7 linked regions of the Homo sapiens genome follow. The protein of the gene in region 3 purifies or fractionates together with the protein of the main gene of each other region. This does not show direct contact. Each region holds a gene or a part of one and is shown on either strand. Other genes may lie near its edges. The genes, in order: EXOC7, STX18, IFT57, HOMER1, EHBP1, IFT172 and TRAF7.

The links.
Region 1: the proteins of IFT57 (region 3) and EXOC7 purify together in Homo sapiens (affinity purification with mass spectrometry; 4 studies listed by BioGRID and IntAct, with this or other methods). This does not show direct contact.
Region 2: the proteins of IFT57 (region 3) and STX18 purify together in Homo sapiens (affinity purification with mass spectrometry; 4 studies listed by BioGRID and IntAct, with this or other methods). This does not show direct contact.
Region 4: the proteins of IFT57 (region 3) and HOMER1 purify together in Homo sapiens (affinity purification with mass spectrometry; 4 studies listed by BioGRID and IntAct, with this or other methods). This does not show direct contact.
Region 5: the proteins of IFT57 (region 3) and EHBP1 purify together in Homo sapiens (affinity purification with mass spectrometry; 4 studies listed by BioGRID and IntAct, with this or other methods). This does not show direct contact.
Region 6: the proteins of IFT57 (region 3) and IFT172 purify together in Homo sapiens (affinity purification with mass spectrometry; 5 studies listed by BioGRID and IntAct, with this or other methods). This does not show direct contact.
Region 7: the proteins of IFT57 (region 3) and TRAF7 purify together in Homo sapiens (affinity purification with mass spectrometry; 4 studies listed by BioGRID and IntAct, with this or other methods). This does not show direct contact.

The regions. Positions count from the first base shown.
Region 1 is NC_000017.11:76,090,288-76,093,787, forward strand, and holds part of EXOC7 (exocyst complex component 7), read right to left. Parts: intron 949-3,500; coding exon 856-948; intron 195-855; coding exon of another isoform or gene 42-194; intron 1-41. UniProt on the Homo sapiens protein: Component of the exocyst complex involved in the docking of exocytic vesicles with fusion sites on the plasma membrane.
Region 2 is NC_000004.12:4,434,049-4,437,548, reverse strand, and holds part of STX18 (syntaxin-18), read left to right. Parts: intron 1-2,690; coding exon 2,691-2,779; intron 2,780-3,500. UniProt on the Homo sapiens protein: Syntaxin that may be involved in targeting and fusion of Golgi-derived retrograde transport vesicles with the ER.
Region 3 is NC_000003.12:108,163,425-108,166,924, forward strand, and holds part of IFT57 (intraflagellar transport protein 57 homolog), read right to left. Parts: coding exon 3,430-3,500; intron 2,070-3,429; coding exon 2,007-2,069; intron 306-2,006; coding exon 239-305; intron 1-238. UniProt on the Homo sapiens protein: Required for the formation of cilia. Plays an indirect role in sonic hedgehog signaling, cilia being required for all activity of the hedgehog pathway.
Region 4 is NC_000005.10:79,507,635-79,511,134, forward strand, and holds part of HOMER1 (homer protein homolog 1), read right to left. Parts: intron 3,384-3,500; exon of another isoform or gene 2,753-3,383; intron 1-2,752. UniProt on the Homo sapiens protein: Postsynaptic density scaffolding protein. Binds and cross-links cytoplasmic regions of GRM1, GRM5, ITPR1, DNM3, RYR1, RYR2, SHANK1 and SHANK3.
Region 5 is NC_000002.12:63,041,213-63,044,712, reverse strand, and holds part of EHBP1 (EH domain-binding protein 1), read right to left. Parts: intron 792-3,500; exon of another isoform or gene 1-791. UniProt on the Homo sapiens protein: May play a role in actin reorganization. Links clathrin-mediated endocytosis to the actin cytoskeleton. May act as Rab effector protein and play a role in vesicle trafficking.
Region 6 is NC_000002.12:27,483,244-27,486,743, forward strand, and holds part of IFT172 (intraflagellar transport protein 172 homolog), read right to left. Parts: intron 3,000-3,500; exon of another isoform or gene 2,916-2,999; intron 2,261-2,915; coding exon 2,117-2,260; intron 1,888-2,116; coding exon 1,775-1,887; intron 1,024-1,774; coding exon 984-1,023; intron 924-983; exon of another isoform or gene 785-923; intron 695-784; coding exon 629-694; intron 417-628; coding exon 337-416; intron 134-336; coding exon 46-133; intron 1-45. UniProt on the Homo sapiens protein: Required for the maintenance and formation of cilia. Plays an indirect role in hedgehog (Hh) signaling, cilia being required for all activity of the hedgehog pathway.
Region 7 is NC_000016.10:2,158,782-2,162,281, reverse strand, and holds part of TRAF7 (E3 ubiquitin-protein ligase TRAF7), read right to left. Parts: intron 1-3,500. UniProt on the Homo sapiens protein: E3 ubiquitin and SUMO-protein ligase that plays a role in different biological processes such as innate immunity, inflammation or apoptosis. Potentiates MAP3K3-mediated activation of JUN/AP1 and DDIT3 transcriptional regulators.

The sequences.
Region 1 (3,500 bases), on a different chromosome or scaffold from region 3:
CAGTGTCAGCGGCTGCCCTCGGGCTGGGCTGCGGTACTCACCGGCCAGCGGCCCGTGCTTGTCGTTCAAGGCCTCGGACAGGTGCTTAACTCGGAAATCATGCTCGTGACCTGGCGAGATGTCGGCCGCACAAACACAAGCAGCGTTTATCCAGGGGCCAGGCAGGCCGCCCCTTGGGGTACAGGGAAGAAGCCCTTCATCTCCAGGAGGGGGACGTCAGATGGGGATGGGGAAGGGGGCATCGGAGAGGGCCCTGAGCCCCTCCTCTACCTCAAGCCACCTTGGGAACAGCCGTTTCAAGCCTGACTTCAGTGAGCACCCAGGACCGTCCTTAGCTGCTCATTTCCCCGAGCCTGGAGGCCCAGGGAAAGCGGAGAAGGACCAAGGAGGGGCTGAAGAGCTGATGCTTGGCCCCAGGGGGGTTCCCCACCTCGCTGTATTTGGGGAAAGCCCCAGTTTGCCTGTCCTCTGCTGCACACACTCCCCTTTCTAAAGATGGGAAGGCCGGGAGGCCTCGGCCAGCTGGGGCCTGCCACTGCTGGTCTGAGCGTGAAAGGGCTGCCCCAAGACAAATAACTTTTTCTGAGTTCACACAGGAGACAAGGACAGAGACAGGGAAGGGAGGAGGGAAGCCTCAGGGAGGGCAGAGCTGCCATCAGCCAGAGAGGACCAGGCCGAGGGCTGCGAAACTGTCCCTGTGCCCGCTGAAGCCCGAGTGGCATCGGGGACCTGCCGTTCCCACCCTGCTCCCCTCAGGGTTTCTCCCGAGGCCCTCCTGGGGGAGGCTCTGCCCTGCCAAGTGCGTGGACACACAGTGGAGGAGGAAGGGACAGGAGGGGAACACAGGGTGATTACCTTCCAGAGGAATGAGGTTAGAGCCCCCCTTTTTCCCATCTAGACCATGCTGGGAATACTGTTTCAGAAGGTTCTGAGCCTTACGGATCGTCCCTGTCACCAGAGCCACACAGAGAGGAGATAAGAAGACCTAGGAAATGAGTGAGAGAAAACAGCAGCGGCCCTCCACCTGCCCCCCAGGCCCCGCACCCAGCTCCCCAACAGTGAGCAGGCCTTTCCCTGAGACCACCAGAGACGCTGGGGACAAGGATGAAGGAAAGGAGTCATTTCCTTCTCCAAATGGAGCCTTGATTCTACTACCGACCCTCCTTGTTCTGGATTTCAGCTCATTTCTGAAAGGACAGAGGGTAATGAAGATGGACCAAGATCCACCAGGAGAAGTCAAAAATATGGAGTGGCATCATAATCAGAACAGGCGAGGGCTCAGGTCGGAGGAGCCCGTGACAAAGCTCGCATACCCAGAGGGCACAACCAGGGTGGGAGAGCCTGGGGGGCACCCTGAAGCCAGCAGGCCCCCAGCCCAGCCCCAAACTCCAGGCAGAGTTCTCCGAGCATGCTCAGTGTTGGGACGTACGCCAAACAGCAGCCAGCAGGAAGCCACCCTGACTGAACTTCCGGGGGAGCGCTGTGCCCAAGGCGGACGGCTCAGAGACCCAGAGGCAGCCTAGCCCCACACCAGAGTTCCCCAAACCACCAAAGCGACAAGAAAAAATCCAAAAGTCAAGAAGGGGTTAACAGAAGCCACCACACAGAGCGCCTGGAGGGTGTGCACGGAAGGAGAGGGCACATGCTCTTGGCATGGGGGAGAAAAACAATAGTTAGTATCACAAGTGAAAACAATGAGAACAAAATGGCAGCACCCACAGCCGCCTGGGTCAGCCTCCTTTGTGGGAATGAGACATCTCGGGCCAGAAGACGTCGGGAAATCAACTCGCATCTCAAGCAGACAAGTGCAGCTGCCTTGTTAACAAAATGTATAGGGGCAGAAAGGCACCCGGGATGCCTCCCACCCCCACAGTCTATCTGAGCACAGTGAGGCTGCTGTGTCCTGGCAGCTCCCCAGAAAGCTGAGGGAGAAAGGGGCAGTGTCTGGAGGCTCACTGCTTACACCTGCACCGCACCGCACCGCACAACACCACAATTAGCTTGTTTTTTTTTTTTTTTTTTTTTTTGAGACAGTCTCACTCTGTCGCCCAGGCTGGAGTACGGTGGCACGACCTCGGCTCACTGCAACCTCTGCCTCCTGGGTTCAAGTGATTCTCCTGCCTCAGCCTCCCAGGTAGCTGGGATTATAGGCGTGCGTCACCACACCCAACTAATTTTTTTTCTATTTTTAGTAGAGACAGGGTTTCACCATGTTGGCCAGGCTGGTCTCGAACTCCTGACCTCAGGTGATCCGCCCGCCTCGGCCTCCCGAAGTGCTAGGATTACAGGCGTGAGCCACCATACTTGGCCCATAATTAGCTCCTAATAACCAAGGCCTGGCTCACGTCTCCCTTGCTCATGCTCTCCCCTTCAGCGAGTGCGGCTTACTAATGAGTGAATCTGATTCCTGCCCCACAACCCACCAGGAGCAGACACAGACGCAGGTGCACGCCGGCAGGATGTGGGTCGCCGATGTGGATCTAGCAGCCGCCAAACCCGTCAGGCTCCCAATTGCCTCCAGGGATGCTGAGGTCGGTGCTTCACCACCTGGGAGGCCTCCCTGTCCCTCTCCTCAGAAGTGGGAACCGACATCCCCAGAGCCTGACTCCCTAGAGCCTGACATCGGTCCTGAGCCCACCAGTTCCTGACAACTCTGAAACCCCACAGCTGGAGTTTTCCTCTAGTGTCTCTGGCCCAAGGATGGATGTGGTCCACTGTGAGCCACCTGAGATCAGATCCCTCCTGCCTGAAAGGCCAGGTAGCTGCATGGCCAGCGGGCACTCTTAAGGCAGTGCAAATAGGGCTCTGGGGCTTCTGGGGGACCTGTCAGGGAGCCAGGCAGAAGAGGAAGCAAGCACAGACTGGCTGGGGCCCAAGCATCCTAGCAGCCTCATAGAGACAGCCACTCCCCACCACACAGAAGGCACAGAGCTGCTCCATCCACTGTGCAGGCAGCTGCGCCCACAGGCTGGGCTGGCAGTCCCCATTTGCAGCAGGTTTTGGCTGGTGGGCAGGATTTCCACACTGGAGGGAGAAGGCCCCAGGCACCAGCTCCCTAATGCTCTACTCCCTGAGGGCAGCCCCTGCTCTGCCTGTTTCTCCAAACCCTAAACAAAGGCCTGCAGGGGAGCGGGTGCTCTTGTGGAACAGACACCTCACTCTCTGAGGGGCATGAGCAGGCAGGGACTGGAGAAACCAAGGGTGTAAGTAAGCTCTACCCAAAGCTTGTTGTCATAAGCAGGTGCCACAGGCCACAACTAGGGCATGTGCCCACAGCAGCAGCTGGACAGGGGGCCAGCCTGGGTGGGAGCAGCCCCGGCTTCTCCAGCTTTCTTTTTCAGTGCAATCTCAGCAGCCCCACCCCAGAACATCCCAGCACATCATCGAGCTGCGGGCAGCATCTCTCAGTGGCCAGACATAGCCGGGCTTGCCAAGCTGTGGCTGGCAGAGACACTGTTTACCTGGAGCACAGACTATAAGGGATATGATGCCGGGGAGAA
Region 2 (3,500 bases), on a different chromosome or scaffold from region 3:
ACCAGAAGTGTTTTGGATTTAGGGTTTTTTCAAATTTTTGCATATTTGCATTGTCCTTACCAGTTGAGCATCTCTAATCTGAAAACTAAAATCTGGAAAGCTCCAATGAGTATTTCCTTTGGGTGTCACATTGGAGCTCAATAAGTTTCAGGGATGTGATTCCTGCCCTCAGGGAGCTCACAGTTGATGGGAAAGATAAGGCTCTAGCCCCTGGGAGAAAGTAAGTAGTACCTCAAGAGAGAGCAGAGGGCCAGGGAGACTTCAAGAGGAGGTGGCACTAAGAAGTGAGTCTGGGCCAGGCGCAGTGGTTCACACCTGTAATCCCAGCACTTTGGGAGGCCAAGGCGGGTTGGATCACCTGAGGTCAGGACATCAAGACCAGCCTAACATGGAAAAACCCCATCTCTACTAAAAATACAAAATTAGCCAGGTGTGGTGGCACACGCCTGTAATCCCAGCTACTGGGGAGGCTGAGGCAGGAGAATCACTTGAACCTGGGAGGCGGAAGTTGCAGTGAGCCAAGATCGTGCCATTGCACTCCAGCCTGGGCAACAAGAGCGAAATTCCGTCTCAAAAAAAAAAAAAAAAAAAAAAAAAAGTGAGTCTGGACCTGAAAAAATAAAAAATGAAAGCTTAGAAAGTTCTAGACAGAGGCAGCAGCATGAGCAAATGCTCAGAGGCCAGAAAGCCTGGAGATTGGGTGGGATATAGTCAGTAAAGAAGACCCGTGGGGATCAGTGAAGCCCATCAGTGGGAGGAGAGGTGGGAGTAAGCTTGGAAGGGTGGGTAGGGCCTTGAATGCCAGAGTAGGGAGTCTGGACTTGCCTCTGTGGCACCAGGGTGCACGGGTGGCCTGGGCAGAGGACTGGCATGGTGGGTGCTGTGCTTCAGGCTGATCCTTAGGGCAGCCTATCAAGAAGGCTTCTGATGGCCACAAATGAGCATGTTGTAGAGTGTGAGTTCTGCTAAGAAAACTTTCCCATTCTAGCTCAGAGTTAATTTATGCTTGGTTCAGATATGAACAAGGTTTCTGTTTCTAATTTTGATGTTTTTTTCCTTAAAAAAGAAATCAACAACAGTAAAAGCTTGAAATGGATACCATAATGAGGACAAGTAGGAGACAGCTCATAAGGTGGGGGTGGGGGGTAGATGAAAGTACAAATGTTCCTACCCAAAGAATGTCATCTCAGGAAAATATCAGATCATTTCTAAAGATACTTTTAGCCAACCTTTTACAAACACATGTTTTTCTATAATGACACTTCTGGTAAAAACAGCCATTTTTCTAAAAGCCTGCATGCACTAAGTTGTGGATGACATGCAGTTTTTTTTGTAAAGATATATTTCTAATAAATAACCATAACTTTCAGGCATGGCCTGCCTAGTGAGCTTTCTCTACATTGTTGCTATCATTACGTTCTCTTCCCCTATTTAAAGATCTGGACTTGTTGCCATCTCATGGGGCTGAGACTGACTACAGGAAATTTACTGAGATTGAGGAAAAAAGGAAAAAGAAGCAGTATTTGCCTTTGAGTACTTGGAAGCTCACTGATAAGCCCTGAGACACAGACACAAAGTGACTTCATTACAGTCTCCCCCGAGGATCCATCCCTGCCATCCCTCTCCCCTCCGCTCCCAACCCTACCCCGGTGATGAACTGCACAGACCTCTTACCGTCATCCTGGGCGGCAGCAGTCCTTTCTAGGGGCCTGTGGTATTGACATGCTTCAATGGAGGATGCATCACCTTTCCTTGATCATAATGAAAAAGTTCTCCAGATTAAAATGTTCCTACGCTCCCTTTCAGCAGTTGCATGCCCAGGTATCTGTCCTAGAGAGTCACTCCAGCATGTGCACATAGCACAGACCGGGACACAGTACCATGACACCAGTGAACAGTCTGAAACCACTGAGGTCTGTCAGCGTAGTTATGGCTAAAGACCAGTGTATCCTCACGATGGAATATCATGCAGCAATTTAAAAGAACAAGGTAGATCTACTTGGACCATCTCCAAGATGTATCAATAAATCATACAAAGCAAGTTTTAGAACAGCATGTTACTATTGATATCTGTGTGAAAAGCAAGCCGCCATACACACAAAACTGTGTATTACTTGAATTTCATGGGTAGACAGGGACTCATATATCTTTGTATGTGAATATCTTTAGATAAAATCTATGAAGCTACATCAAAGCAGTAACATCTGGGAGAGGAATAGGATTGGAGAACAGTATATCACTTCCTGTATATATATATATATGTATGTATATATGCATATGTATTTTTTACAATAAAAATATGTCTTACAGTCTTTAAAAGTAGACAGGGGTGTATGTGTCTTGAAGTAAAACATACTTTAAGACTCATTCTGAAGAATTCTGAAGACATTCTGAATAATGTCCATTTAGTTTGCAGCCATTGCTGACATCAGTGCGATACTGAAACCGTGCATAGGTCCCCCTCCCCATCACACACACACATGCACGTGCCTGCACAAAGACAATTTAAAGCCTAAATGTTGTGAAAGAATCATGTCTGCAGTGCCTGAATATTAGCCCAAAGATCATGAAATATATAGACAAAGCTGTAAGATTCTGTTTAATCTCTTGTTTGTGTTATGACTACATCCTAAGCCAGCCTATTCTAAAACACATATTTGGTCTTCTATTTTCAATTTTTTTTTTAACAGAAAAAATTTTGGCTGAAACACAACCTGAATTGGGAACGTGGGGAGATGGCAAAGGCGAAGATGAGTTATCCCCAGAAGAAATACAAATGGTAATGCTATTCTCTGCCTAATTATTTATTTTTAACTGGTTTTCATAAGACTGTTTCACTAAGGAGAAACTCATCCTCAATGCCCTTGCCCTTATTTTTATACTGAGTTTTAAAAATTATAAATGTGTATTTTATATACACTTTCCCATTTGATTTCCTAATTCTTACGGTGCTTTTCATATGCTTTAAATTTGCAGTAGCATAATTAAAGAAGACATTTTGCCTTGGAAGAATTTTACTAATAATAGATGTCTTTTCAACAACAGTAAAATAGTCTTCTAGACTAAATGGGTCTTTTATAAATGCCACTATGATGCTTTTTAATTGTTTGAATTGCTAGTGCTATGGTAATGTGAAAAAAGTAAGATAATGACTGAAAAGTGAAAAGAGTAACACCTTAACTACTGATAGCACCTCCTTTTAGTTACCTGCCTTCTGGTTTCCAGCTGCTATAGCTTACCATCTATGGGTGGGTTTCAAAAGGAACTGATAGGTCTGCCAAGCCCCTGCCAGCTCACGTCCAGCAATGTCTGTGTGCAGCTCATCTGGACACTGGTGTGACAGAAGCCAGATGGAATATGCTATCTGTGTGTGGGAATAGATGTCACCTAGAGCTGCTAGGATGTGACACTGTCCTCTAAGACGTGGGGAATGTGACTACCACACGGCACGCCTCCAGTGACTGTGCCTGGCAAGTGATAGCATTTTAAGTGTGCAGCAG
Region 3 (3,500 bases):
TTGAATCAATAGTTTGAATGTTAAAAACCTCTAAATTATAGTTAAAAAGCCTACCCTTCTCAGCTGATTTATAAGAAAAACAGTACGCTGATTATCAGACATTTTTGTACAATGAATCTCTCTTCAAACAAGCAACAAATAATTTGTTTTATATATTAATACTATTTTGTTAAGTAGGTTTCTTGAAGAGCTATTTTTCTCTTGCTCAGTTTTTCCCCTAAAATGAGCATGTACTTACCACCATCAGTCATGCTGCTGCCCTTTTCTTCCATTTCTTGTTTTACCTTTTCTAATTCTTCCATAACCTTTCATGAAAACAAGTTTTCATGAGCATTACATTTTAATAAACTTTCACAATTTTTGAATTATGTGTTAAGAAAATGTAATTTAGATATTAGCCACACATATAGAAAAATAAAGATATTAGGAATATTTTGGACATAATTCAAATAATATAAAGTATGCAGATATACAAAGCTTTTCAGTTTTTCAGAATGCTCCTAATGTTAAACTTCACCAAATGGCTGTCACATCTGTTTTCTCATGTTGCAATATACTAAACACAATCAAAGTTGTTTTAGTCACTAGACACTCAAACCTCGCAATTATCTCATCGCATATACTTTGAAATTCTCTAATAACTGGTTATTAATTAAAATAGTATAAACATCCTGAAGAGATTTTAGATTTCTAAAGCTTTTCTGGGTATCTTTCTTAATATTATAGTTCTATAAGACATTATGTCACTTTTTCCTCTATAGGACACTAAAAAATGTTTATATCATATGGCTATATATAAGAATATTCTTATTGCTTTATCCAAATCATGAACTCCGAACTCCAAGGAGGCATACTTTGCTGTCACACTTGTTCCTATCTGCACTCTATCTGGCGATTATACTACTATAACCTCTATTATTAGCAAAATTCCAAACCAGCATTAATATAAGTAGAAAATACTATCTTTAAGAAATTGAAAATTTTTTACATGATCTACAACTAAGCTATAATTATTGTGACTTAGTAGGCTTTATTTTTATCATACTGGTGAGTAAAACTTTCCCTGGGAATAAAGTGCTCATCCAAGTAAAGCAAATTAATTTTTTCAGGCATCTGAAATGTTACAACTGGGGATAACTATCTACTCCAAAAGAAGTAAATGGTTCCCTGGACTCCCTTCAAGTGTTAATTTACCTAACATAAGTGAACACTTTACTTCTACATACTGTTTTATTTGCTTAGAAGCACCACAGGATTACAGTCTAAATATTTCTGATGTTATATTTTTAGTGTTTTAAAATAACTTTATTCCTCAAATAATCTCTATAAAAGAGGTTTAATTCTTTCCTGTCAAAACAGTAAAGTTTGTTCCAATTATACTGGATTGTAACCAAAGATCATCTTGGATTTTAGTCCCAAATAAACTACTGACCTTTTTTCAAGGTTTTTTCCTCCTTTGGCTCTTCAGTGAAAAATGGGAATATATATCAGGTCCTACCTCTCTTGCAAGATCATAAAAATAAATGCAACTATTTATTTTTATGCAAATATTCTAAAGGAGGAGGTTATAAGCCACTCCCAATTGTGGACAGAGAAATACACCCAGGATCACACACAAATTATCAATAACAGTCACTAAAAATAAACCTTATATCTTGCAGACTAACGTTAAAATTTGTTATAGATTCCTTAAGTCAGTGCTTTACTATTCATCCCCATGTTAATAATAATTATTATGTAAAAAATGTTGAGGAAAATTATAAGTGTGCTAATATTATGAGCAGGTTTTATGTTGAATTTAATACAGAAACTTCAGGCATCCTGTGGAAACAAGAAATGTATCAATTATTGATTCAGTCATAGGAAAATTAGGGATTATCTCCTAAAGAAAATGATTTAAAGGCACAGGAAGCAACTGAAATTAGCAGTGTTAAACCATTTGTAGGTTCTCAATGGCTGGGGCCCAGCTGACAGGTGAGAAGCAGGGCAAGAGCATCAGTGTGTACCTCAGAGAGGAGTCTGGTTCTTTCCGTCACTCCTCCATTTCCCTGCTGGTATCGCTCCTTTGCCTGAGAGGAAAAACATTTTGTTTAATGGCAAATTCAAAGCAGCAGCAGATTAAATACGACTGACCTCTTTGTGTTTGCAATTTCTGCAGGTCATTTTATGACAACCCTGCTCCTTGTTTGTGAATACATTTGTGAAAGTGACATTTAACTGTAGCTGTTTTATGTCCCTAATAGGCAGCATGTATTTAACTAAGTACTACAAAATGATGAACTACCTTAACCTTCACAAACTGACTGTGTACCTCGCATGGGCATGGTTCACAATAAAAACTGTCCTTGGTCATTCCTAAACAGTTTAGGAGAGGGGCTCTTGGTCAATCTAATTTGCATGCTCCGCAGAGAAAGTCCGTTCTAAAACCAAAAATCAATCAAAGTAGAGCATGAAGCTCAATGATGAATAAGGATTAACATCCCGTAAGACAGTACACTCAACTGGAGTATGTCAGAAACTAACAATCAATTATATAATATTAATATTAGACAAATACATGGTGGCTTTGATCAGAGAGTTTTACATCATTTTGATAGTTAAAATATTCATAAGTAATTGTGTATATGAAGGAATAATACATTTAACAAATAACATCAAAAAGTGTAGATTTCTATTTAGTCTTTGAGGACTTCTGAAAGTATAGAAGTATCTCAAATTTACTTCTACTTTTTTCTCTTTCTCAACTTTGTCTGCTGAAGACAAAAAATATGCCTTCAACTGATGTTTGCAACTGTCCTTACTAGCCTTCTTTAACATCAGAAAATAGGGGGCACAAATCCCAAAGGAAAGCTTTTAGATCCCTACTGCTGGGACAAAGAACTGGTGCTTTCAAAGTCTAGTGATTTTATTTTTTGGTTAAAATTCTAAAACTTTGAAAGAATGAAAAATTTGTCTCATTTTATTAATTAAACTGCTTGTCTCTGAATGTATCTTGCTTTCACATTCCTTATTATGTGGTTGTAAGCCAGAATGGCAAGGACTGTCTTTTTCCTTTGACACATGTAAATGCATACTATTCTTCTTCCTCCTACGCCAATGGTAAATTAACAACAGACTTATAGAAGCAAAACCAGGTGTCCTGATACTCTGTTCCTGTTCTAAGCTATGTTCCCCCAACAGCATATGCCTTCATTTACTTAAATCAAATGAAGACGTGCATTTAAAGACTTCCAGGAGAAAACAACTTCTATTACATGTGAAATGGAAATAAGTTCACTCGGCTCTCTTGGCTTCCTAAAGTGGGCAGAAAATTGATGTTTTGCTGTTCATGAAAAGCATTTCATGATTCTCAAATGAACAGTATTGTGTCAAGTTTAGGGTTTAGGGTTGTTAACTTGAATAAATCCTTGGAAATCATTCTTAAATTACCTCACTCAGCTGGGCTTGAGCTGCACGATATTCTTGAACCAAATTCTCAAGCTGATTGTTGATGTACTTTT
Region 4 (3,500 bases), on a different chromosome or scaffold from region 3:
TGTCCAGTTAGTCATATTAATCTGAAATAACAATCCAGTAACTAAAAATAAATACTTCAACTAAACACTAAAGACTGAAAAAAAAAAAAATCACATGGCAGTAGAGAGGTTAGACCTTTTGGGATATAACCACCTTTTCTTCTGAGATGTTTAATCACTCAAAACTATAAACTATGAATAAGGACAGTTTCTTCTGTCAACCCCTTAACTCCCAAATTCACTATTTTATGACCCATAGTTAGTGACTCTGCTAAGAACATACCATGCTCTTTGCTACATTCTTACCTCTCCAATGAAATGTCCTAATTCTGAAAAAGCCCCGTTCAGCCAACTACACATCTCTCAGTCACCATCCCTCCCCTCCCCACTTCGGAACCTTCCAGGGCCTGCCCAACTGTCCACTTCCTCTACCCAGCCAGAGTTCATTGTTCTGGCTTGGTGTTTCCACAGGATACAAGACACAAAACCAAATTGTAAATGATTTTTAAAATTGCTTTCTTATTCTACTTCCCTGATCATGTTCTTACTCTGCTTAAAACCCTTTAGTAATCTTCACACAGAAGAGAAGTGCTTTTCAAATTACCAGTTGCTAACACAGCGTCATTAAATAAATTGAGTGGGTCACCATCATCAGTCTATCTTAAAAATAAAATAGAACGGAACAGAATAGAAACTACCAGAGTGTACCATACAAAGCAAGGGTATTATGTAGTGACATTTTATCATTTATATACAAGCATATTGGGTTGCAATGTAAAGATGCTTATCTTTCCAACGGGTCATAGCCAAAAAAACCTCTAAACACACTAAACTACAGGATAATCCAATCTTTCATTTGATCTACATGGTTCTCCAACCCAGTCCCTGCATAATAAGGCTCTAGACCTATCTCTTGCTACACCAAAGGGAGCTAGCTCAAGCAAACAAGCTTGTCATGCCAAACTCCTTTGCAGTTCCTCGTTTTAGTGGTGTCAATCACTGTTCTCTCTGCCTTGAATGCCCTCTTATTTGTCTAAGAGGCTCACTTGTACTCATCTTTCAGTATTTAACAACTATCACCTCCTCTACAAAGCCTTTTTATCCTTCCCTCAGCAGCTAATGCCCCCCCAACACACACTTTGTGTCTCCATAATGCCCTACATTATAGCTCCTACAAAATTTCATTGCACATTTTAATTTTAGGCTTGACTGTCTGCCCAACTTCCAAAGTATAAACTCACTAAGGGAAGGAGCACATTGTATTGGCCTTCCTATCAGCAGCACTGAGGTAAGTACACGCACTATAACAAAGGTTCAAAGTTGGTAAAATGAACAAATGACGAATTAAGGACTTGCATCTAAGTTGTCTATTGTCAGATATGATAGGGTGGTTATCTTTGCAATAAAACCCATTTATAGTGCTGGATCAAGATTTTCACATTTTTGCTACAACCCCTAGAGAGCAGAACCCTGCAGTTTGAGGCAGAAGGAGGTGTCAGCTTCCCATCTTTCAGCAAAGAGACTCAGTTTGGGCTGCAATGTAGCAGCACTCATTTCCATGCTTCTGGAAGTTATTTGGGGAAAGAGGGGAAGGAAGGACTCCAGAAGTTCCCATAGGCAGGTGAGATAAATCAGAAACAGCATTAACAGATTCCATTAGCAGGGAGAGCCCCATTTTATGTATAAGTAGCTCTTAATAAGGGAAGGGAGGGAAAGAATTCTTTACCATTGCTGATGGCACTAGGTTGCCAAAATGAGCTAAGTAAAAACAAAGGGTTTCATGAAATAAGTGGTTGAAGTTACTTGATTTCTGTTGCCTACTGTGATAGTTCTGAAATAGCTACTGACTCACTGCTGTCATTATGAGATACTATTTGGAGGTGGGGGTGGGGGTCATACCTAACAGGGGCTCCTCACTGAGGCTTCAAAACTTTTCAGAGACTTCATTTTACATACATGAATGCCTTAATTTTTAGGGGATCTGATACACCTATTTTACAAACCCATACTTTAGTTGCCTTCACTGCAATTAACAGTTCATGCAACATCCAAGATACTTTGACAGACTTTGCCAACTGTCAAGTTTCAGCTGTTCTTCTCCATTTCCAAAAAGTTCATAAACTACTATTAGGGGAGCCATAATTTTTTTCTGCCCAATCACTGATTTTATTAAAAATAATTCCTTTGCTTAGACTGCCCCTAGACTTGCAATAATTATCTACAATTAAGACGAAGATAAATCCTTATTATAACCTAACATTAGTTTAAAAAAAGAAGGTTGTAATATGTGAAACACTTTACCCACAGTATTAAATTTTAGATATCTATTACAGTAAGGTAATTATGGATTGCCAAGGTAAAGCTTTAAAAGCCATTTAAAGCCCTGTTTCCTTTTGCTTGAAATAGGTCCAGGCAGCTATGCTAATTCCACAAACATTTATTAGGCATAAATACGCATAAAGTGTGGAAACGTCAGCAAATGCCTTTGCTGTATGCTCTTCTACTTCCATCTACCCTTCCTCTCTCTACTCAAGTCACTATCAATGAGAAAGGGTCATAGCCCCAAATACAGGCTTTCCAAAAAAAAAAAAATAGCACCACAAAATGCTCGCTCCTTTTTCTCCTCAGTCCATATATAGAACTTTATTAACTAAAGGGCAGATACATTCATTTATAAACAAATTAATTATGCTAAGTGTCTAAATGCATGTTATGTGTGGTGCTAACTTTCCCACTTTAAACAACAGCCCCCTTAGTATTAAATTCATCCTGTCTCTTCAGATTCTAGGCGCTTCAGGAGCCGCGCCTTAAGGTGCAGACATGGCCAAGTCCAAGAACCACACCACACACAACCAGTCCCAAAAATGGCACAGAAATGGTATCAAGAAACCCGAAGCACAAAGATACGAATCTCTTAAGGGGGTGGACCCCAAGTTCCTGAGGAACATGCAGTTTGCCAAGAAACACAACAAGAAGGGCCTAAAGAAGATGCAGGCTAACAGTGCCAAGGCCATGAGTGCACATGCCAAGGCTATCAAGGCCCTCCTAAAGCCCAAGGAGGTTAAGCCCAAGATCCCAAAGGGTGTCAGCCGCAAGCTCAACTTGCCTACACTGTCCACCCCAAGCTTGGGAAGCATGCTCGTGCCCGCATTGCCAAGGGGCTCAGGGTGTGCTGGCCAAAGGCCAAGGACAAGGATCAAACCAAGGCCCAGGCTGCAGCTCCAGCTTCAGTTCCAGCTCAGGCTCCCAAAGGTGCCCAGGCCCCTACAGAGGCTTCAGAGTAGATATCTCTATCTGCCAACGTGAGGACAGGACTGGTGCGACCCCCCGCCAGGCTGCCATCTGCATGGGGCTGTGGGGCTGGGGTCCTCCTGTGCTATTTGTACAAAGAAACCTCAGGCAGGGAAAAAAAAATTCATCCTAAGCTTCCCTTGGTAAAATGACAGGCATTCATGCAGCTTAAAGGTTCTGGAAAACTGATTTTCTTCCATGATGCTACTACTCCACAGTCTAGACAAAAT
Region 5 (3,500 bases), on a different chromosome or scaffold from region 3:
GGGTAAATGAGGAGGCGGGAAACAGTGATGGGCGATAAAATCATTCTGAAAAGGCTAGAGAATCTGCCTGAGAACCTATCCTCCTCCCCCACCCCCACTCTCACCCCAAACAGCCCATTCTTCGCTAATTTCCTCTTCGCTCTATTTTAGCAGTTGGATGTATCTCACACTGGGCGCCATATGCTTCACAATAACTTTAAAAGTAGTGAATCGGCTAATTAGCATTTTTCTTTGAAGTAAAAAATAAATTTGCTCTGCAATATTACACTGCAGCTCTCGATCGCATCACAGCCAGTTTTCTTTTGGAGACGTTTGCTGGGTGGTTTCAAATCAAAGCACTTTTGCAAAGGAAAAATTACATATTTCTTTCTGAAACCCTATGTTAAAGGTTGGAAAACCCGATGGGCAGTGCTCTTTCCATGGATGGGGGGCGTTTTTTTTTTTTTTTTTTGAAGGTTTTAGACCCCAATAATATATTTCCTAATCTTTGCTGGTCTGATGATTTCCTTAAGATGAGCAGCAGTTTCATTTAATAGAAACAGGACCAAATCGAACATTTAAAACACTTTTGAAACCAAAGCCAACTGCTCTCTGGCCAGACTGTAAGGGCTTGTAGCTGTCAATCAACCCCCAGTCTACCCCGCCTCCCTCATTAGGAAGGTAAACAATGAAAAGAAGAAGTAGATGATGAGGCAGATAGCAGAACAAATGAGGACCTAGAGGGAAACAGGACACCAGCTTAAAAAAAAAAAAAAAAAAAAAAAAAAAAAAAAAAAAAAAAAAAAAAAAAAAGAACCATGGCCACTGACTCCTGCAGCCCCCTCCCCCAGCAAATGCACTTTCCAAAAAACAGAGAGAAGTGCAATCCTTTTGGGTTTCTCTCTTCTCTCTCCATTGCCCTGGGCAATCATGTTAAAACTCACATGGCTGGTGCTTATTCAGATAAACCTAACAATGCACACCGCTGGTTACCATGTGAATCTTCACAAACCACACAAGAATGTGCTGGTTCAAATCCCCCCCGACCCCCTCCAAAGCAAAATTTATTCAAGACAGCAAACTGCTCAGCAGCTTTATGAAAGCAAATGGTGCTAGAGGGAATTCTATCTTGTATTTACAAATTAAAAATTAGATGCATCATCATGCAATAAAGGTTAGAAAAGCAGCAAAAAGCTAGACTGTTTTATTCAATTTATCACTATTTCTTTCATTATAAGCTCTAACACATACATACATATTTATATGAAACATGCTATATGTTAATTATCCACATTCGATATAAAACCACACAAATACTTTAAATAACTGATCACTATTACATTTTTATTTTAAAAATGAAATATTCTATAGCATGGAGATGAATACAGAAACTATTTGGAAAGGGTTTCTTTGAATATAATAATTTAAAAAATAATAAACAGCAAAATTGAAGAGCAGCCATATATATCACAATTTTATTCTTTGGATTTAAATGCAACTGAGGAGAGGAATGCTGGAAAATTTTTTAATCTGGTTCTTGTTCTTAAATCAGTCTTATTCAGCAGGTAAATTAATAGGCTCTCCAGGTTGGAAAGATCTTAAAGGTCATCTAGTCTAATTTCAGGTAACTATAATTCTAGAAATATTATTTCAGAAAAAAACCTAAATGTGTAATAGATTTGAGACTAAATTTTATATTAAGATTACTAGTTTAATGAATGTTAATTTTTTTCACTTCCAACCTCAAGAAATCATTCTGATTATAAGCTTTGATTTATAATTATTTACTTCGAAACCATTTTGCTAACAGCTTTACAATTGAATACATTTTCAAAAATAGAATTAAATTGAAAATTATATTAAAAAAATTAAACCAAGAAAACATAAATTTTAACAACACATATAATTTTCTTAATTATTCCTTCTCTGAACTTGACCAGTTGCTTTTAAGGCTTTAATTAGTAATTAAAAATACCAAGATTTCATTAATATTGAAAAAATTAGGACTTTAACAAAATGGATAAGAGAGGACATTAAAGAAAATTTTAACCTTTGAAGTATTGAGTAATTTAAAATATCTTAACTTTTCCCTAGCTCAGTAATGACATTTTCTATAACTGTAATGAAATCATTTAAAAATTAAGAATATTTAGGTAATTTTCATCATTTCAGAGTCAAATTTAAATGACATTAGAATTTAAAATATCCCAGCATAAATTTATAGGTTTTTAAAATATTAAATCTGTCATTACAGTGCTACATTAATATCTGTCTACAAAATATTAGTCAACTGTACAGGAAATAGCAATGTGCAGTGAATAGATTTTACATTAGCAAACTATACTTTTACTTCACGTTTGTTTTCTCATAATGGGAATAAATTATATAATATATATGTACACAAACTCATACATATGTATACATATACATATATATTTGAATGCTAATTTGAGAAATTAAGTAAACTATTTTTATCTTTTTTAAAAAATGTAATATTACATTTAAAATTGATCAAGATTCACATTCGCATGTTCAAGCCTAACTGCACTGACTTTGGCTTGGACAAACTACAATGTGGGTTCTGATTAATTTAAAGATTCCAGTGTACTTTTGCTACAAAAGCCATATCCTCTTGTAACAAATAGGATTAAGTTTTGATGCTGCATTTGAGCCAAAGTGTTGAAATAAAGAGATTCTGTTTATGTCCATCTGCACTGAGCTGTTTTGTTAGTTTAAAAAACTCTTTTTTATATATAGGGCCAATTATTCACTCCCTGATTCAGTTTATTTGCTGAAGTTGATAATTACCTTGAAAAAAGGCAAGAGAAATACCTATAAACACTTTAACAGAAAGGACCTAAAGTTCTTGTAGTAAACCTTCAACCTTGCCACTATAAATAAGCCTGGCACTTTGATGAAAATTAACACTAGTTTTGTAAAGAGCACATTGGGGGATTGCAGTCAAGTCTTATCTTTAGTTCCAGTCAACTAGCAATCCTGAAAGAGTTTGCATCATCATCAGAACAGGCCATTTGATAGGATTCTACCGCTGTACCTAATCAATCTATGGAAGACTGTGGCTGTACTGTGTAACAAAGCTAAAATAGATTTACAAATGGGGTTTTAGGGGATAAGCTCCTCCACAGGATTACATATTGATTTTAAATATAAAAAGCTTATCATATAAACCATAACTACAAAAATAGTGAACCTATGCATAAATCCCTTTAGAAGAGCGCCCACTTCAAACTCTAAGCCAGGAATAAATCAAGATGTACAAAATCCTAGAGAAGATCCATTTCTTGTGCAGAAAATGAACATACCACTTTCTAAAAGCCCACCCCAATGTGTGCAGAAATGAATTTATCTTTCTTGAGGGGGCATTAAATAATCTGGAACAAAAAAAACTATAGGAAAAGTATCTAAAAGATGTTTGTTAGCTTGAGGGATCCTACAACTTAGTTCAGTAGAATGAAACTCCTGCTATGAAAAACACCTCAGGAGAAAAAGGGTAAAAAACA
Region 6 (3,500 bases), on a different chromosome or scaffold from region 3:
TGGACTCAAGCAATCCAAGCCTCCCACAACATTCTTTATTCATACCTGTGACTCTCCAGAGCCTTCATCATCAAAGAAATACCTAACGATGGTACCATCTGCATGACCAGAGAGAATTCCTTTCCCAGAGCAACTAAAAAAGGAGAAAGGAGAGAAATACAGGAAGAGACTATTTTATCTCACCAAGAAAGCCCCTTTCTCTGTCAAACACAACCTTGTCTGTGCTTCCTGCTACCAGTTCTCCTGCCTTTCATACTATGGTCTTGCAGTCCAGACTTCCCCACAGCATTTTCCTAACACTTCCAGACTCTAGTGATACTACTCCTCTTTACTCACTTTGTTGTCAGGGACACCACGTAAGACTCTGTCCCATAGATGGTAGATGATTTATTAGTTTTGGTGTTTGCTAAACGAACCTGAAAATGGAAAAATTGATACAAGTATGGTTAGGCTATTTTATATTTAACTAGGCCCTAAGAAAAAAAGGAAAAACTGTCCCACAAAACTGGTCCCTATGCATTCTCCCCAGTACGCAACTTGATCCTAAGAAAGAGGATGAACCATATTCCTCTCTCCAGAACCATTATCCCTACCACCCCCTCTCTTGTGTTTCCCTTCCCTCTTTTACCTTCCCTTCAGCCAGTCCAAAGACAATGATGTATTCTGCCGGCCATTGCAGACAAGTGACAGCACTCTGCGTGGAAGGAAACAATGAAAAGGATAACCCCATCTGTGTGGGCCAGCACTTTTATAACAACTTCAACACCCCACCACACACCACCACCTCAATCTCCTATAGGGAAGGACACAGCAGGGCTCTAAGGAAGACAGCAGATGACCATGAACAGCCATGAAGCACCATCCTTGCAGTAGGAAAAGTCACATTCAGATGTTAGAAATGCAACTCCTGGCTGTATTTATAAGTAGATATACTGATATATGTTTGTTCATCCTAAGGTTCCAGGGACTGGTCTGAACTTTACCGTCTGGATGAACTTGTTGCAGATGACTTTCTTGTCACCCCTGCCAAACAAAAGAAGGGGAAACATATTAAAAACCACTTCCAGGCCGGGCGTGGTGGCTCATGCCTGTAATCCCAGCACTTTGGGAGGCCGAGGCGGGAGGATCATGAGGTCAGGAGATCGAGACCATCCTGGCTAACACAGTGAAACCCCGTCTCTACTAAAAATACAAAAAATTAGCCGGGTGTGGTGGTGGGCGCCTGTAGTCCCAGCTACTCGGGAGGCTGAGGCAGGAGAATTGCGTGAACCTGGGAGGAGGAGCTTGCAGTGAGCCACAATCGCGCCACTGCACTCCAGCCTGGGTGACAGAGTGAGACTCTATCTCAAAATAAATAAATAAATAAATACCACTTCCATAAACAAATTGCCAAAAATGATGCTGAGGGAAGAGAAGAAAGAGCAGATTTCTTCCCTGGCCCAGTAGTATTTCTGACTACTCTGTAGGAGCCCTGAAAGGAGGTATATGAGGGAGCCTAAGCAGCTTCAGAACAATAACAAAGATGTGACATCACTCTGGGCTTCCAGGATCTCACAGGGCCTCCTGTTGACCTTGGACTGTTTCCTCCAGGGATGGGATTGAAGAACACGTGGGACAGGTGAAGGCAGAAAAGCAAAAACAGACTCCAGAAAGTCTCTGCCTTCAATGGCCAAGCTTGGCTTCTCATCCCCTGTATTTCCCCTCCCCAGTGAGGCATTTCTCTTGCCTTCCCCTTCTTTCCTGGGCCATCCCATCTCCCAGTCTCTATCCTCACCAATCTTCTCCAATCTTGTAGACATAGATGATGTTGTCAGTCTGTCCTATGGCAATTTTAGTGGAATCAGGAGAAAAAGCCATGCCCTTCACCATATAGCTCTTCCTGCCATACTAAGAGTTTAAAAAAAAAAAAAGAAAGAAAAAGAAGTAATGAGTACACATGAAAGAGAAAAGAGAAAAAAAGGCATATGTGTGCTCCTAAGGGAGCTTGAGGATTTATACTGAGAAAAAGGTGGGGTATGCCATTTCCTATGCTGATGGCTAGAAGGCAGACTACGTCTTTCAAGTTGTGAGACCCCATCAATAGGTTAAATAAGGTACACATGAATACACTGTTTACCTTCATGTCAGCTGGTTTGGTGGAGAATTTATCTCTCCGTTCTCCATGTTCATCATACAGCAAGACCACTCGGTCCACTGTGCAGACAGCAAATTTGGCATTGTTCTGGGACCAAGCCATGCAGGTCACCTTTGCAGCTCCATCCTGTAGAGGCAAAGGGGTAAAAACAAACCCATGTGCTGGTCTAGAATGCCAAAAGCATTTCTAGCTTCATTAATTCTAGTGTAATACTGGTCAATTTTCTTCCTGTCACGGTTCTATCCTCAAAACAAAGAGATGCCTGTGGCCCATGCTGGTCTCCAAGGCCTTCAGATCCTGGACTGTGAGAACAACAGGCTTCTAGAGACTCATATGCAAATGCACTAAGAGGCAGGGTGCTAAGTCAACTGTATCAATGAATCCCTGCAACGGCCTCCTCGTTTCCAGGTCTGCTACTGAAATAAATTCAATTAGTCTGGTAAGTTTTGGTCATTAGCCATTCATTCAATTAATATTTTTTTAGCACCTTATTGATCAAGGCACTTGGCCAGGGGCTGAGAGAGAGACAAAAAGCAAACCATAGATCCTGCCTCCACGTCTAATAAGATGGTGCAAAATAGAAAAGTCCTATTAAAGTATGTATAAAGTACTACAATAGTTTGGAGAAGCCTGAGAGAATTTTATGCTTAAATTATCAAAATTAAGCTTTGAAGAATGAATGCAGTTGAGTAGGAAGTTATCTGAGATGGGAGGAATGGCAATGAGCAAAGGCAAATTCTGGACAAGAAACAGTAATTTAGTTTATTTGAAACTATTATACCTTATAAATAGTAGAATAGACGGGGTAAGGCAGGAAAAACAGGCCAGCTCAGGAAGTCTTTGAAGCCAGGCAAAGGAGTTTGGGCTTATTTGAAAGGAAAGGGAGAGACAGTGAGAGTTCAGGATGGGCGAGTACGAGTTGAGACTCAGGACGAATAATCCCACTTTCTTTTCTTCTTAACTACCCACTTCAGAGAAACCCAAGTTAGAAGTTATCTCCAGGTGAATTATTCTGACCAGATCTGACCCTTCCAACACTAGCTCTGGTCCTAAGGGACTAGCTCTGCTACTAAGGGTTTCCTTCCTTGAAAACAAAACATTTTATTCTGCTTTTCTTCTGCCCCAATTGTTTAATTATTTGGACACTAGAGTTCTGGCTTCAAACATTGACACTTTACACTCCAAACTCACCTATCTCCAAAGTCAGAAGTAAAAAGTCTATTTTCCTGCAAATCCTCAAACCAGAAAATAGCCACACCACCATCACTATGATCCTCTAACTCTTCATTATATTAGGTTAGAAGGCCTGAGGGCTCCTCATCAATCTTTGCTGATCCTCCTGCTTTATCGCTTTGCCCAATTCTGG
Region 7 (3,500 bases), on a different chromosome or scaffold from region 3:
TGGGCTGTCTACCACTCCTGCTGTCTCCTCTCCCATTCTCTAGGCTGCCCAGGCCCACCTGTCCCTTCCAATGCCACCTGGAAGGCCACCCACCCTGGAGCCACTCAGCCTTCAGGACTCGGGCTCAACCCGACATCTCAGCCCCTGCAGTTGGCAGCGCCACGAGCTACCTGGCCCCACCTGATCTTTGCGTCCCATGGTCTCGGGAGATGGGGCCTGGCCAAAGCCTCCCTCGGCCTTCCCCAGGCCCCACTGCGACTCGAGGGGCTTGGCCCTGTGTGACCCAGACTAGGCTCTCGGGGGACTTCTCTTGTGGAAGAGGCAGGGGCTCCTGAGTGTGGGCAGTGCCACACACCTGCAGCCAGGCTCAGAGGAGTCAGCCCTGGGACAGAGGTGTGGTCGTGGTGTGTCTACAAGGCTGCTCTGCCCTGGCACATGTCTATCCCGTCTCCAGCAGCTCCCGGCAGGAAGGTCGGGGAGAGCTGGCCAGGGCTTGCCTTTTGCCATTGTGCTTGGGGTGAGGATGTCCCAGCTGGGGTAAGGCCCTGATAGCCTGAAGTGCAGGGCGCCATGACTCGGCACAGGAGGTTCAGCCCTTTTGGGAGCCCCAGGTTGGCTCCTGCCCTCTGGGAGCAGGGAGGGGATCACCGGGCAGCCACTAGGAGACACTGACCTGCATTTTACAAACCCATCAGCTCCCTGTACTGCAAGCTTCCGGGGCCCCAGGGCCAGCTGCAAGCCCTGCCAGTGATGCCTGCCCGGGGGCCCAGGTGGCCAGGACCCCAGCAGGCACTCCCCTGGGATGGGTCGGGCTGGCCTCAGTGCCTGTTGCTCACAGTCTGGGAGAGCAACTGTCTGGCTTCCCCCTCACTCTGAAGTGAGGTGAACAGAAAGGCACGCAGGGCAATGTGCAAATCAGCCAGAAAGTCCCAGCTGGCCAACAGCAGCCGGGCCACGGGGACAACACCACAGGATCTGTGGGGTGTGCGCAAGACCCCATCGAGCGCCAGCTGAGGGGGACGGAAGGAGGGAGGGGACGGAGGGAGGGAGGGGGCAGAGGGAAGCAGGGGGACGGAGGGAGGGAGGGGGACGGAAGGAGGGAGGGAAGGAGGGGGATACTCTGCACAGGAGGCTGCTTCCCAGTTCACTCGGGTTCAGTGTTCAGCCCCAGCCAGGGACATGGAGGCGGGCGGGACCCTGGGGCTGGAGGCCAGGGAACGTTTGTGTCCCGCCCTAAGGCAGGATCCATCCCCGCACCTCGGAATTGAGCAAGATGCCCGAGGCCTCCCCTCAGCCCAGTCCCCAGGGACTGGGTTTTGCAGTAAGTTTCCCCAGTAGGGAGAGGACCCCTTGGGCCACAACTGGAAAGCACAATAGCTCAGCATCCCCTGATGGCTGGGAGGCTTTTCTGGGGGCATGCCCTGGCCCCCCAGAGGGAGAGTGCCTCTTTCCCCACCCCACAGTCATCGAGGCTGGGGGGTGGCCGGGCAGGAAGTTGTCAACCGGAGTGAGAATTCCCCTTCAATTCTCTGGCCTCTCTGCCCTCCAGTTCCCAGTGCTGGGGAAGTGGGGGTGTGTTCCATAGAATGAGAGACTCTTCCCAAACCGGGAAAAGCCATGGGGGCAGCTAGTGGCTGAGAAAGGGCTTTCCCCATCAGCCCCCCTACCCCTCCCTTCCATGTCCCCACCACGCCTGCCCGAGCACCGCCCGCCCACCCACACCGCCCGCCCATCCACACCGCCTGCCCGAGCACCTCCCGCCCACCCACACCGCCCGCCGGTCCACACCTCCCGCCCGTCCACACCGCCCGCCCATCCACACCGCCTGCCTGTCCACACCACCTGCCCGTCCACACCACCTGCCCGTCCACACTGCCCATGCTGGATGCTCCAGGAGTATTCGATCTTTGAAAGAGAAAAGTCATTGAGGAAGCGCAGCATCCACCCTGGGGAAGGCCAGTGCTGACCTTCAGGGGCGAGGTGCGTGGGTCAGCACCGTGCAGAGGGGAAGGGCAGGATTGGCCCCCCACCGTCCCCTCCAGCTGGGGCCAACGCAGGGCAGCCCCTCCCTGACCTCGCCTGAATCTGGGATTCAGGCCCAGGGTCTTTGTCCACCCCACATTCACGTAGGAGGGATTCCGGGGCCCTGGGGGCACCCACTGTGCAATAAGGAAGTGGAAGTCTTCCTCAGCGCCTCGCTGCCTCCACCCCAGCCCCTCTTCGGCAAATCCCTCAGGAGCCCCTCCCTAGCTCCCACAAGCTGGGCTTAGAGGGCTCTGCTGGGGCATCGCCCTGGGGGCATGTGGGATGCGGACACCCACCCCTTTCCCTGGAGACACACCTGGAGGGGGTCTGGGTCAGGGGTCCCCGCCCACTTGGCAGCAGCCTGGGGGGCCCTGCTGAGTGGGGGAGATGGGGGCTTCCAGATGCAGCTCCCTGCTCGGGCCAGGCCCGGCCTTAAAGCAGCTCCTCCAGCAACCCGGAGCAGGTGGGGTGTGGGGGTCCCCTGAACATGTGTGGGGCGCAAGCCATGGGTGGGTGTGCCTGTGAGGCCTGCAACTGCCCTGGGAGGAGCCTGGGACGGCTCCAGAAGCCTCCGCCCCGCCTGCCACAGGGCTGTGTGTGGCCGGCTGGCTGGACTGCGGCCAGAGCTCCGAGCGTGGCCCCTGGCATCACAGAGCCTGCCCAGGGCACCCACAGACTGCCCGCCCCAGCCCAGCCCCTGCCTCAGCCCCCTGGCCCAAGCCCAGGCCGCTAAATTCTATAGAAACAGGCCTGGTTGCCATAGCAAAGCCACACGCACTTCCGCCGCTGTTCCCTGACGTCCCTTAGAACGTTTTTTCCATCCCAAATAGGCAGGGTGTGACGTCGAAGGCTCCTGGGGTGCCCCGGCCTCTGCCAGCCTTGGTCCTTAGGATCCCCTCAGAACCCCAGCAGGCCCTGGTCTGAGGCCGGCTTGGCCCCGCTTCCCTCCTAGCACGGCGAACCCCCTTGCCTGTCCCTGCCCCCAACACCCACAGCCCCAGCTCTGCAGAGGCCTCTGAACTCCTCCCCCAGCTCTGCTCCTACTGCATCCACTCAGCCTCCAGGCCTGTCTTGCCCTGGCCAAGCCTCTCCAGCGTCCGTATCTCCCTCTGCTCCAGGGAGGGGGTCCCCACAGCTCGGCCAAGGCTTTACCCCAACTTCACAGTAAGGATGCCTTTTGCTGCCCCTCCGACCCCTTGGGGGCTGGCAACATCTCTCAGTCCTTTTTTCCCCTGTATCTCATGGCTGTCTATTGTGTGGGGACCTGGCCCAGTCGAGGGGAAGTCCAGAGGGCTTCCTGGAGGATGAGGCTGCTGGGATCCAGAGTGGGGAGAGTATCCTGGGGCACAGGAAGAGACCCCAGCTTCACAGCTCTGGGCTGGGGAGTGCGTTCCTGGCTCTCACCCAAGTCAAGTGGGCCTCAGACTCTCAGAAACAGGTCGTGAGCTTTGCCCAAGAGCCAAGGGTGGCAGTGT